3 linked regions of the Homo sapiens genome follow. The protein of the gene in region 2 purifies or fractionates together with the protein of the main gene of each other region. This does not show direct contact. Each region holds a gene or a part of one and is shown on either strand. Other genes may lie near its edges. The genes, in order: RHPN2, HNF1A and IGFBP7.

Region 1 (3,651 bases), on a different chromosome or scaffold from region 2:
TAGTGGTGGGCCTTCACGCAGGCTAAGCTGGCCCAGGAGTAGGGGATGTTCTCTTTCACCGGCGCCTGGCTCATGGCTGCGTGTAGCTGTTGGTAGACCTCTCCCACCTGAAATAGAAGGGACACTGGGAAGGGGCAGCCCGGCACAAGGGCCCTCATGAACCCATTTGCAGAGAAAGAGCCCTTTCTTCTTCCCATGCAACAGCCCCTGCCAGGGGCTGCTCCAGAATCTGGGAGCAACTCCAAGAGACCCCTCGTTCTGTCATTGTCACAGTTAACAGGGGGATCAGGCTGCTGTCATTATGCTGGTTTTTAGGTTAAGCTGCAGATGGAATCAGTGATCTGTATCTGAAACACCAACACTTGCCAAGAAAACTCAAGCCAGCAGTACTGGCCGGAGCTGGCACAATGCCCAGGTCACAGGCAAGCTCCCATGGGAAGGCCCCGCTACTTCCAGTGCTCCTGTGCCAGCATCTCCTGCCCACTCCCCAAAGTCACAGGAACCAGGGAGTCCTACCTTAGCAGCCTCCTGAGCCACCTTCACCAGCATGAAGAATTCATTCCGGATCCCAGGAAGGCTGATTTTCTCAAACACGCTTTCTTGGGCTTGTGCAAGCATCATTTTGACGAGCACGCTGAGCATGGCAGGGCTCATGTCGTAACTTGGAGTATGGGTAAATGTGTCTTTCAGGTAATTTAAAACCCCTAAAAGTGGAAAATGTTTTGCCCATTAGTTCGGGTTCATATTTACTTCATCACGTTGCTATAGAGAAAGATAGGAGGCCGAGTGCGGTGGCTCATGCCCATAATCCCAACACTTTGGGAGGCCGAAGTGAGCAGATCACTTGTATCAGGAATTCAAGACCAGCGTGGGCAACGTGGTGAAACCCTGTCTCTACAAAAAATACAAAAATTAGCCGGGTGTGATGGTGTGCGACTATAGTCTCAGCTCCTCTGGAGGCTGAGGCAGGAGGATTGCTTGAGCCCAGGAGGCAGAGGTTGCAGTGAGCTGAGATCTCACTACTGCACTCCAGCCTGGGTGACAGAGCAAGACTCTGTCTCAAAAAAAAAAAAAAAAAAAAAAAAAGGAAAAGACAGGAGAAAAAAAAAAGAACCGGTGTCCTACAACATATTAAAAAATTTGATTCTCAATTATATGGTCCAGCAATTCCACTCCTATGATATATATCCCCAAACAATTGAAAGTGGGGGCTTAAATGACACTTGAACACCCGTGTTAATAGCAACATTATTCACAAGAGCTGAAAAGTGGAAACCACCCAGACGTCCATGAGCAGATGAATGATTAAACACAATGTGGCCTATCCATACAACAGAATATTTTTCAGCCTTAAAAAGGAATGAAATTCTGACACATGGTACAGTGTAAATAAGGACATTATGCTAAGTGAAACAAGCCAGTCACAAAAGGACCAATATTGTAGGATTCCATTTAGATAAGGTACCCGGAATAGTCAAATTCACAGAAATAGAAAGGAGAATAGAGGTTAGCTGGGGCTGGAAAAGCGGGCAATGGGAAGTTATTGTTTAACTGAGTACAGAGCTTTGCTTTGGATGATGAAAAAGTTCCGGAGATAGCTGGGCACAGGGGCTGCTGCCTGTAATCCCAGCTATAAAGGAGGCTGAGGTGGGAGGGTTGCTTGACATTAAGAGTTCAAGACCAGCCTGGGCAACGTACTGAGACCCCTGTCTCTTAAAAAATATATACTTTTTAAAAATGTATTTATTTTATTTATTTTTGAGACAAGATCACACTCTGTTGCCCAGACTGGAGTGCGGTGGCACAATCATGGCTCACTGCAGCCTCAAACTCCTGGGCTCAAGCGGTCCTCCCACCTCAGTCTCCTGAAGAGCTGGGACTACAGCCATGTGCCACCCTACACCAAGCTAATTTTAAAATTTTTTGTACAGATGGGGTGTCCCTATGTTGCTCAGACTGGTCTCCACTCTTGGATTCAAGTGATCCTCCTGACTCAGCCTCCCAAAGTGCTGAGATTACAGGTGTGAGCCACCTTGCCTAACCAACAAAAAAAGTTTTTAACTTCTGGAGATGTTTAGTGGTAATGGCTGCACAACACTATGAATGTACAAATGCACTTAATGCCATTGAACTGCACACTTAAAAATGGTTAAAATGTGCTTCTGGTTGGCAGGATAATTTTAAAATTTTTAAAATTTAAGATAATAATTAAAATGGTAATTTTATGTTCTGTGTTATTTTACTATAATAAAAAAACTGGTTAAAATAGTACATTTTAAGTTATATATGTATATTTTAACACTATTTATTTATTTATTTATAAATAAACACCCAGGCTGGAGTGCAGTGGTGTGATTTCAGTTCACTGCAACCTCTGCCTCCCAGGTTCAAGCGATCCTCCTGCCTCAGCCTCCCAAGTAGCAGGGATTACAGGTGTCCACCACCACACCCAGCTAATTTTTGTATTTTTAGTACAGACGGGGTTTCACCATGTTGGCCAGGCTGGTCTCGAACTCCTGACCTCAGGTGATCTGCCTGCCTCGGCCACTGAAAGTGCTGGGATAACAGGCGTGAGCCACCCCACCCAGCCTTTTAACCCAATTTTTAAAAATTGGATTACCTTCCAAAACACATCTCTATTGAGTAAAGAAACCAGCCTGCTCCCCACAACTCCTGTGTCACCTGGGACAAAATTCCATCACGACAGGTATGGAGATGCAAGCAGACGGCAGGCAGAAGGACTAAGGGGCTCACAGGGGACCAGGCTCACACATAAGATCTGAGTCATTCAGCAGTCCAGGGCTTTTCCCCTGGACCTCAAGAAAGATCTATTCTGGCCAGGCGTGGTGGCTCATGCCTCTAATCCCAGCACTTTGGGAGGCCGAGGTGGGCGGATCACCTGAGGTCAGGAGTTCAAGACCAGCCTGGCCAACATGGCAAAAGCCCATCTCTACCAAAAATACAAAATTAGCCAGGTGTGGTGGTGCACGCCTATAATCCCAGCTACTCCGGAGGCTGAGGCAGGAGAATCACTTGAACCCGGGAAGCAGAGGCTGCAGTGAGCCGAGATCTCGCCACTGCACTCCAGCCTGGGCGACAGAGTGAGATTCTGTCTCAAAAAAAAAAAAAAAAAAAAAAAAATCTCAATCCGTCTGCTCCAATGGAAATTTTCATGCTGCAGCCTTCCTCTGACTTCTTTGTAGTTTAGAAAATTAACTGTCCAAAGCGCTAACTGACAATCAATCTGGAACTGAAATAGAATCTCTCATATGAATCCCATCCAACTGGTTCCTCTGGTTTTGTTGCTGAGCAAAAAAAAAAAAAAAAAAGCCCTGCCCTGCGGAGGGATGGCACCTGCTGTTTTGAGCTGCGAGCTCCATGGGGGTTCCCTCACACTCCCCACTGTTCTCCTACTTGCTTCATTTCGTCTATAGTTTGTCTCCATTGATATAATCTCAGAGACAGGACACAGAGTGCCTGCCTAAGATTCCTCAGAAAGATGAGTCCAGAAAAAAGATTTACAGCAAAAGAAATCAACTCATACTTGGAATCTTAGCATATCGCTTCATCCCGATAGACCAATCTTTTATTTTTTTAATTAATTAATTATTTTTTGGGACAGGGTCTTGCTCTGTCGCCCAAGCTGGAGTG
Region 2 (3,651 bases):
GAGGAGGCCAGAAACCAACTCCAGCTCCTCTTGTCACCTGGAGACAGCAGGTATGAAAGGGAACGGGAGGTGCAGGTGCAGGGCTACTGTACTAAGCACGGGTGCTACGTACTAAGCGCAGGTGCTACTGTACTAAATGCAGGCGCTATGTACTAAGCACAGGTGCTACTATACTAAACACAGGTGCTATGTACTAAGCACAGGTGCTACTGTACTAAACTCAGGTGCTGTGTAGTAAGTTCAGGTGGCCCCTGTCAAAGAGCAAGGCAGAGGACAGCAGTACTTCCATCTCCAGGCCACCTTTCCAAATATAACCCCATGTTTTGCCTACAGCACCTCCACCCACCCCTCAGGAGACACATAGACCCTACAAGAGACACACAGACACTAGGAAAACGCACATAAACCACATATTCTCACAGTGACTCAGATAAAAATGTAACACACACACACGCATACACTCTCAACCATGTACACACAGACATACACAGGCCCCAAATCTCTTAACCCAGTCCCAAATTCCAAAAAGGTCTGAAACCAAAAGATTTCCTTAAGATTGGCACTAGAGCTCATTTGGTGGCGAAACCCAGCCTGAACCTGGTATGAGGTTATGAGTGTTTAAACTGCCTTGTGGAAATCCTATCTTTGGCTGCAGAAATAGCAGTGCTTTGATCACAGGGGGCTGTCTCAAACCCTGCTGGGAGTGTTATGTGATAGCTGGCATATCCACCAAATTACTTTTCTTTTTCTTTTTTTTTTTTTTGGCAGAGTACTCACTCTGTTGCCCAGGCTGGAGTGCAGTGCAGTGGCACAATCTCAGCTCACTGCAACCTCCGCCTCCCAGGTTCAAGCGATTCTGCCTCAGCCTCCCAAGTAGCTGGGACTACAGGCACGTGCCTCCACGCCTGGCTAATTTTTGTACTTTTAGTAGAGACGGGGTTTCACCGTGTTGGCCAGGCTGGTCTTGAACTCCTGACCTCAAGTGATCTGCCCACCTCGGCCTTCCAAAGTGCTGGGATTACAGGCATGAGCCACCACGCCTGGCCCCAGATTACCTTTCTAAAATCTGAATAGATTTTAGAAATTCATATGGCCCTAAGAGTTTCAGAGAAACACAGGCATGCACACAAATGCATGCACAACCGATACACACCCAGACACGCACTAGGGATCTGCTCACACAAGCAGTCGTGCACACACACAGATACGTGCATTCACATGGGAACACACTGGCCTGCAGACACCCTCAATCACGGAAACACACTTGTCCCAGAGACACATGCAGACTGCAATGCCTGCCAGGCACCCCTTTCCCCTGCATCCATTGACAGCCAACCTCTATCATCATCTCCTGCTGTGTGGGGCACAGGGCGCTCACCGTGGGGGCTCTGCAGCTGAGCCATGGTGGCCATGAAGGGGCTCTGGGTCACATGGCTCTGCACAGGTGGCATGAGCGGCTGCTGGTAGGAGGGGTGCAGCGGCTGGGAGAACTGGACGGGCTGCAGGGTGGTCAGGCTGCTGCCCATGCTGTTGATGACCGGCACACTCTGTGCCTGCGTGGAGGCCAGGCCTGGAGTGGAAGGGGAGGGAATCAGCTGGGCCCCCCAGTTATATCCCACCCCTGCCCAAGACCTCCCAAGGGCACCACCTCTCCTTCCCAGAGCCCGTGGTTTGGAGGAGGGGGCAGGGTGGTCAGGAAACAGCCCTCCACTGGGACCTGCCACTAATTTAAGTGGCTCTGGCAAGTCATTCCCCCTCTCTGAGCCTTTAGCTCTTTGTCTAGGCTAGTGGGAGAGGCAGGCGGTGACTTGTTCAAAAGTTGTCAAACTGCGGTTCCCTGGAGCCCTGGGGTTCCACAGCAGTGCAAAGGCCATGGGGTCAGTTCTCTGCTCCCCTCTCCTAGCAGCTCCTTATCTATCTTATGTACTGGGCTTCTGCATAATTGTACCTGCAAATAAGGGCTTTCTGGGCTTAATTTTTCTTCATAAAACAAAAACTTAGAAAACATCAGTCCCCCTTACCCTGCTGTAATTTGCCCATAGACCCTTCACCTTCTGAGGTACCACAGAATTGATGTATTATGCTTAGTGCCTGCCTCCCTGCTTGAGTTGCTGAGATTTTGGTCTGTTTGGTTCACCCAGGTATCACTGATGTAGCACAGTGACTGGTCCAGAGTAGGCACTGGATAAATACATGTTGTATGAATGAATGAATGAGTCCCAGTGGCTCTTCCAGCTCCTGGATTCTGCGGTTGCCCCATGAGCCTCCCACCCAGGTGCCCACCCATCCCCACCAGCTTACCGATGACCAGGGTGGAGGCACCTGTGTTGGTGAACGTAGGACCCAGGGAGGCAGGCTCACCAGGCCCGATGGTCATGACCCCAGGAAGTGAGGCCATGATGAGGTTCTGGGGCTGCTGGTTGAGGCCTGGGGATGTCTGCTCCAAGCTGTGCAGTGCTGTCAGGGTGCTGACAGGGGGGAGGGGGCCCCCAGCTGCTGAGACCTACGAGGGGAAGCCAAGCTGTGTCCGGGGGGCCGGGGTCCCCACAGGGCCTCCCTAGGGACTGCTCCAGAATCTCCCTGCCAAGGAAAGATGAGGTTGGGTTTTCCTTACAAGCAAGGACACTCACCAGCTTGGCTTCTGTACTCAGCAGGCTGTGGCTGGGCTCCAGGCCCGTGGGGGACACTTGGTGGAGGGGTGTAGACACTGTCACTAAGGGACCGCCGCTGCTTGAGGGTACTTCTGCAGTCTCACTGGTCGCAGGCTGTCCATAGCGCACACCTGGAGAGGGAAGCAGTGTCCTGCCTCAGCACCCCACTTCCCTGCCCTCCCCTGCCTCCACAGCCCTCAGCACTTCAAACTCCATTGGTTTGCTTAGGCCAGCTGCCTGTCTGCCTTTATGCAGCCAGCAAATCTGCCTTTGTTTCTACCTTTTGCCAAGCCCTGGGTCAGCTGCTCCCAGTTCCTTGAAGGCTGGGACTGCATTTATTAGCTCCATTCCTCCCACTGCCTAGTGCTATACCTGACATGCAGTAGGTGCTCAGTAGAAGACAACTGAACTGAATTTAACTGAATTTAGTTGAATTGAAATGAATTGAATTGATACAATCTGAAATGAATGAATTGAATTGAATTAACCCAAATCAACTTAGGTTGAGTTGAGTGGAATGATATGAAGTGGAGTGGATGGTGTGGAGTAGAGTAGATGGAATTGAGTGGAATGAGTGGGATCAAGTGGAATGGGTACAGTCGAGTGGAGTGGTAAAGGGTGGAGAGGACGGGTGGGGAGGAATAGAGTGGAGTGGAATGGTATAGGGTGGAGTGGATGGAATGGTGAGGAATAGTGTGGCGTGGAGTGGAATGAATGGAGTGGCTAGAGTGGAATGGATGGAGTTGTGTGAACACAGTGGAGTGGAATGGTATGGAGTGGAGTGAGTGGGTTGGAGTGGAGTGAATGGAGTAGACTGGAATGGTGGAGTATGTGAATAGAGTGGAGTGGAATGGTATAGAGTGGAGTGAGTGGATGAAGTAGAGTGGAATGGATGAAATGTGGAGTCATGTGGAGTGAATGGAGTTGAGTGGATGGGACAGATAGAATAAAATGGTATGTAGTGGAGAGGAGTGGAGAGAAGAGTGGGTAGAGTGGATGG
Region 3 (3,651 bases), on a different chromosome or scaffold from region 2:
ACTCCTGAGCTCAAGAGATCCTCCCACCTTGGCCTCCCAAAGTACTGGGATTACAAACAAGAGCCACTGTGCCTGACCAGGCTCTAAGATTGCTAATCTGGCTATAGAAGGACTAATGTTAGCCACCTCAGAGACATTCATTCATTTTAAGAAACATCATCTTTCACTGAATATAATATGACATTTTTTAGAAGGCACAGCATATATGTACCATAAAGAGCCATCTCAACTCTGACATAAACTTTGTTATCATACAGCATGTTTATTTTATGCGAATGAAAGAGCTCTTTTAGATGTATTTAGACACAAATATATCATATAACCCCCTTGCTCATTCAACAGAAACAAAATATAGGCAAAATAAATTCAGGAAAGTCTTCCTAAAACTTTTTCACACCCAAGGGTTTGACTCTTCTGAATCTCTTTTGTTAGAAACTTCTTATTTTGAAATAATTCCGAGTTTATAAAAAAGAAAGATAGCACAGAGAGTCAATGTTGCTGGTCTACATACCACACTTTGAATAGCAAGCCTGTAGCAGAATATCTAAAGTAAGTACCAGAATTGCTATTTACCACCTGTGTGATGTCTGACCTGCAGTGTCTTTATTTGGAATTTGGGATAACAATTCCCCTTACCTTCCAGGGTTGTTATGAGTAGCATATGAGGAAAATCCACAGAAGTCCTTAGCAAACTGTCAAGTACTTCACAAATACCCGTTGCAGATGCATTCCTTGCCCTCAAGGCATTTACAGTCTAGTTAATAATTCTTTACAGTTATTTGGTGCAGCATAGTCCGCATAGTTTACACAGTGCTTTCATATCTGTTATGTAATTTGACCTTCTCAATAATCCTGTGAAGGTATGAAATTGTACCTTCATTTATTATATACATTCTCCTGAAGTTTTGAGGGGGTTGTTTTTTCACAGTGGCCAAGCCTGCTTTGAACCTGTCGGGTTGGCCTTGGCCTTGTCAGTGCTCTTTACTGTGGGAACTTCATATCATATGAATGGGGCTTTGTCAACACAGGGTTCCTAGGTCTGTTTCACCTGAAATGAACCTTTCTTATTTTTCAGACACAAAACTTCTCTGCAACTCTGGCCTGCTTTTGGGACCAGAGGCCCCTCCCTGGATTCCCGGGACTGCTCCTCTCCCTGGTAACCCTCTCCTGGTAGGGACATTGATGGGGGTGAGGCTTACTGTTAGCTCCAGCTGTTTCTAATTAACTTTGACTGCTCTCCTCTGTAAAACAGTAAAGGCAATTCAACACATTAGCTTTTTCAAAAGGGCCATATCATTTTGCCATTAATCCAACTTGGGATAAAACAGAGGTCAACTATTTAACACAATCAATTTTAAGTAAAAAAAATAAATAAGTAAACGTTTCCCCCCCTCCCCCCATTATCATCCTGGCTTTTTTCTTCTGATCTCATTTTCTCTCAGAGGCCTGGTGGAGGAGACGGTCTTGATTGACCTGGAAAAGCCATATATGACAGGCTGGGGGAAGCTTCCCTTGAACATTTCTAGTCCTCCACTGCTATCCCCACATAAGAGTAAAAGACTCACTGGGAAATCTTTGAAATTACCTTAAATAAGTGGGCTTATTAATTCACATATACCTAAGTCTCCTTCCATTTCAAAGCTTTCTAATTGTGCCACTCCTAAATTTCAAATAAAGGTTACACTCATATTCCCTGGCTTAAAAATTTTTTTGACGATAATTCAGGGTTCCCCAGCTGCTAAAAACAAGATGTTATTTGTCTAACAATGAAAAACACAGATGAGGTCAGATTGTTTGTGGGGTAGGGGTGGCTTGAGGTAAAGGAAGCATCATAATCTCATCCACTGTAGGGAGGAATTTTGAATCAGTGAAGGCTAGCTGGCCTTGGACTCCATCCAAGGGTGTTCTGTCACTGAACTATCCAAGAGAGCCTTATAAGGCGGTTTCTTCTAGAAGGCCAGTCTACAGTGGACCCCGAGGGCAGGCTCTAGGGACAGGATGGAAATCGTATTTCAGGATGTTAACAAATGCCTGCTCAGCTTAATCATTCCATCTCAAAGCTGTATAGTTTAAGAGATTTAAAAATTATAAAATCCTCCCCCAGATGTGGCCCCTCCCCCTCAAGTTATTTCTCAGCTCTCCTAAAGAGAGTCTCCTGACTTCTGCCTGAACACGGTATCCTATTCAATAGTTTTTACTGGAAAGTTCTTCCTGCTGTGTCATCTAAATGTGCCTTGTGGCTATTTAATTCCAGGCCTTTTAATGCTGTCCTCCTGAAGAACTGTATTAAGAGAATAATTTTTCAGGCATCTTCCATTTAATAACTAATTCCCAAACGATGAAGAAACATTAACTTGTTCTTTAGATTACTTTCCTCTGAAAGAATCCTAAGTCCTCTAAGGCCCCACTTTGTCCTTCAGTTTTTCAAATCTTTCCTAAAATGCAGTGATTGAAACTGGACAAAATGATTATAAAGAACCAGTGATTCATTCAATATTCTAGAAATTTCTGTGCTCAAGAAGGGCAGCTGAGGCCAGAAAAATTTTAAAGCATTTCTACTGGACTGGAGCAGACTCTTAGGGAAGGTGACTTTTTCTGTTTCTGATCTGAAAGCAGAGAGAAGGAGTAATAGGGACTTTAGGGGGAAGAGACTCCTGAAAGGAGCAAGTGGTGGTAATTTGGAGGCAGGACTGGCTAATAAGGCAAGCGAGGTGAAGGCACTTTATGAGCAGTCACCGAATAAGAAAAAGCTCCACAAGGGCTTTTCACTCCCAAGTAGCAAGCAGCTTGCCATGGCAGGCTGGGAACCCAGATTTGACAATGCTTCTAAGATCAGAGAGGGAAGTCTTGGGAAGGAGTGTAGGCATCTGTTGTTGTGATTACAGTAACAGCTTCCTTATGGGAGTCTCTGACTGCAGTCTCACCCCCTTCCAATCCATTCTCCCAACAGCAGCCAACAAAGCTTTTCTAAAAGCACAAATCCAGCTCCATCACTCAGCGCTCCCATTGCTCTGTGACAGCGTCTCAGCTCCTTAAGGGGTCACAGGCCCTCCCCTATCACTGGGCTCTGTCACGCAGCCAGCTGCCTCCTTCTCCCTAGGCAGTCCCACCAAACCTCATGCGAGTCCTTCTGCTGGCTATGCTCTGGTTATCTCCTTTCTCTTAAAAAATTGTTTTAACTGATAACTGAAAATTGTATATATATGGTATACAACATGATGTTCTGATGCATGTAGACATTTTGGAATGGCTAAATCAGGCTATTTAACATATGCATTACCTCATACACTTTTTTGTGTGTGTGGTAACAACATTTAAAGTCTATGATCTTAGAACTTTTCTTTTTTTTTTTTCTTTTCTTTTTTTTTTTTTTTTGAGGCAGGGTCTTGCCCTGTTACCCAGGCTGGAGTGCAGTGGTATGATCATGGCTCACTGCAGATTTGACCTCCTGGGCTCAAGTAATCCTCCCGCCTCAGCCTACCAAGTAGCTGGGACTACAGGTGTGTGCCACCACACCCAGCTAATTTTTTTATTTTTTTTATAGAGACGAGGTCTCACTATGTTGCCCAGGCTGGCAATTTTCAGGTATATAATATATTGTTATTAATTATAGTCATCATGAGGGACAATAGATCTCTTGAGCTTATGTCT

What was found.
Region 1: the proteins of HNF1A (region 2) and RHPN2 purify together in Homo sapiens (affinity purification with mass spectrometry; one large-scale study listed by BioGRID and IntAct). This does not show direct contact.
Region 3: the proteins of HNF1A (region 2) and IGFBP7 purify together in Homo sapiens (affinity purification with mass spectrometry, with the first as the bait; one study listed by BioGRID). This does not show direct contact.

The regions. Positions count from the first base shown.
Region 1 is NC_000019.10:33,002,297-33,005,947, forward strand, and holds part of RHPN2 (rhophilin-2), read right to left. Parts: intron 705-3,651; coding exon 517-704; intron 108-516; coding exon 1-107. UniProt on the Homo sapiens protein: Binds specifically to GTP-Rho. May function in a Rho pathway to limit stress fiber formation and/or increase the turnover of F-actin structures in the absence of high levels of RhoA activity.
Region 2 is NC_000012.12:120,995,393-120,999,043, reverse strand, and holds part of HNF1A (hepatocyte nuclear factor 1-alpha), read right to left. Parts: intron 2,783-3,651; coding exon 2,631-2,782; intron 2,504-2,630; coding exon 2,302-2,503; intron 1,571-2,301; coding exon 1,379-1,570; intron 1-1,378. UniProt on the Homo sapiens protein: Transcriptional activator that regulates the tissue specific expression of multiple genes, especially in pancreatic islet cells and in liver. Binds to the inverted palindrome 5'-GTTAATNATTAAC-3'.
Region 3 is NC_000004.12:57,100,302-57,103,952, forward strand, and holds part of IGFBP7 (insulin-like growth factor-binding protein 7 isoform 1 precursor), read right to left. Parts: intron 1-3,651. UniProt on the Homo sapiens protein: Binds IGF1 and IGF2 with a relatively low affinity. Stimulates prostacyclin (PGI2) production. Stimulates cell adhesion. Acts as a ligand for CD93 to play a role in angiogenesis.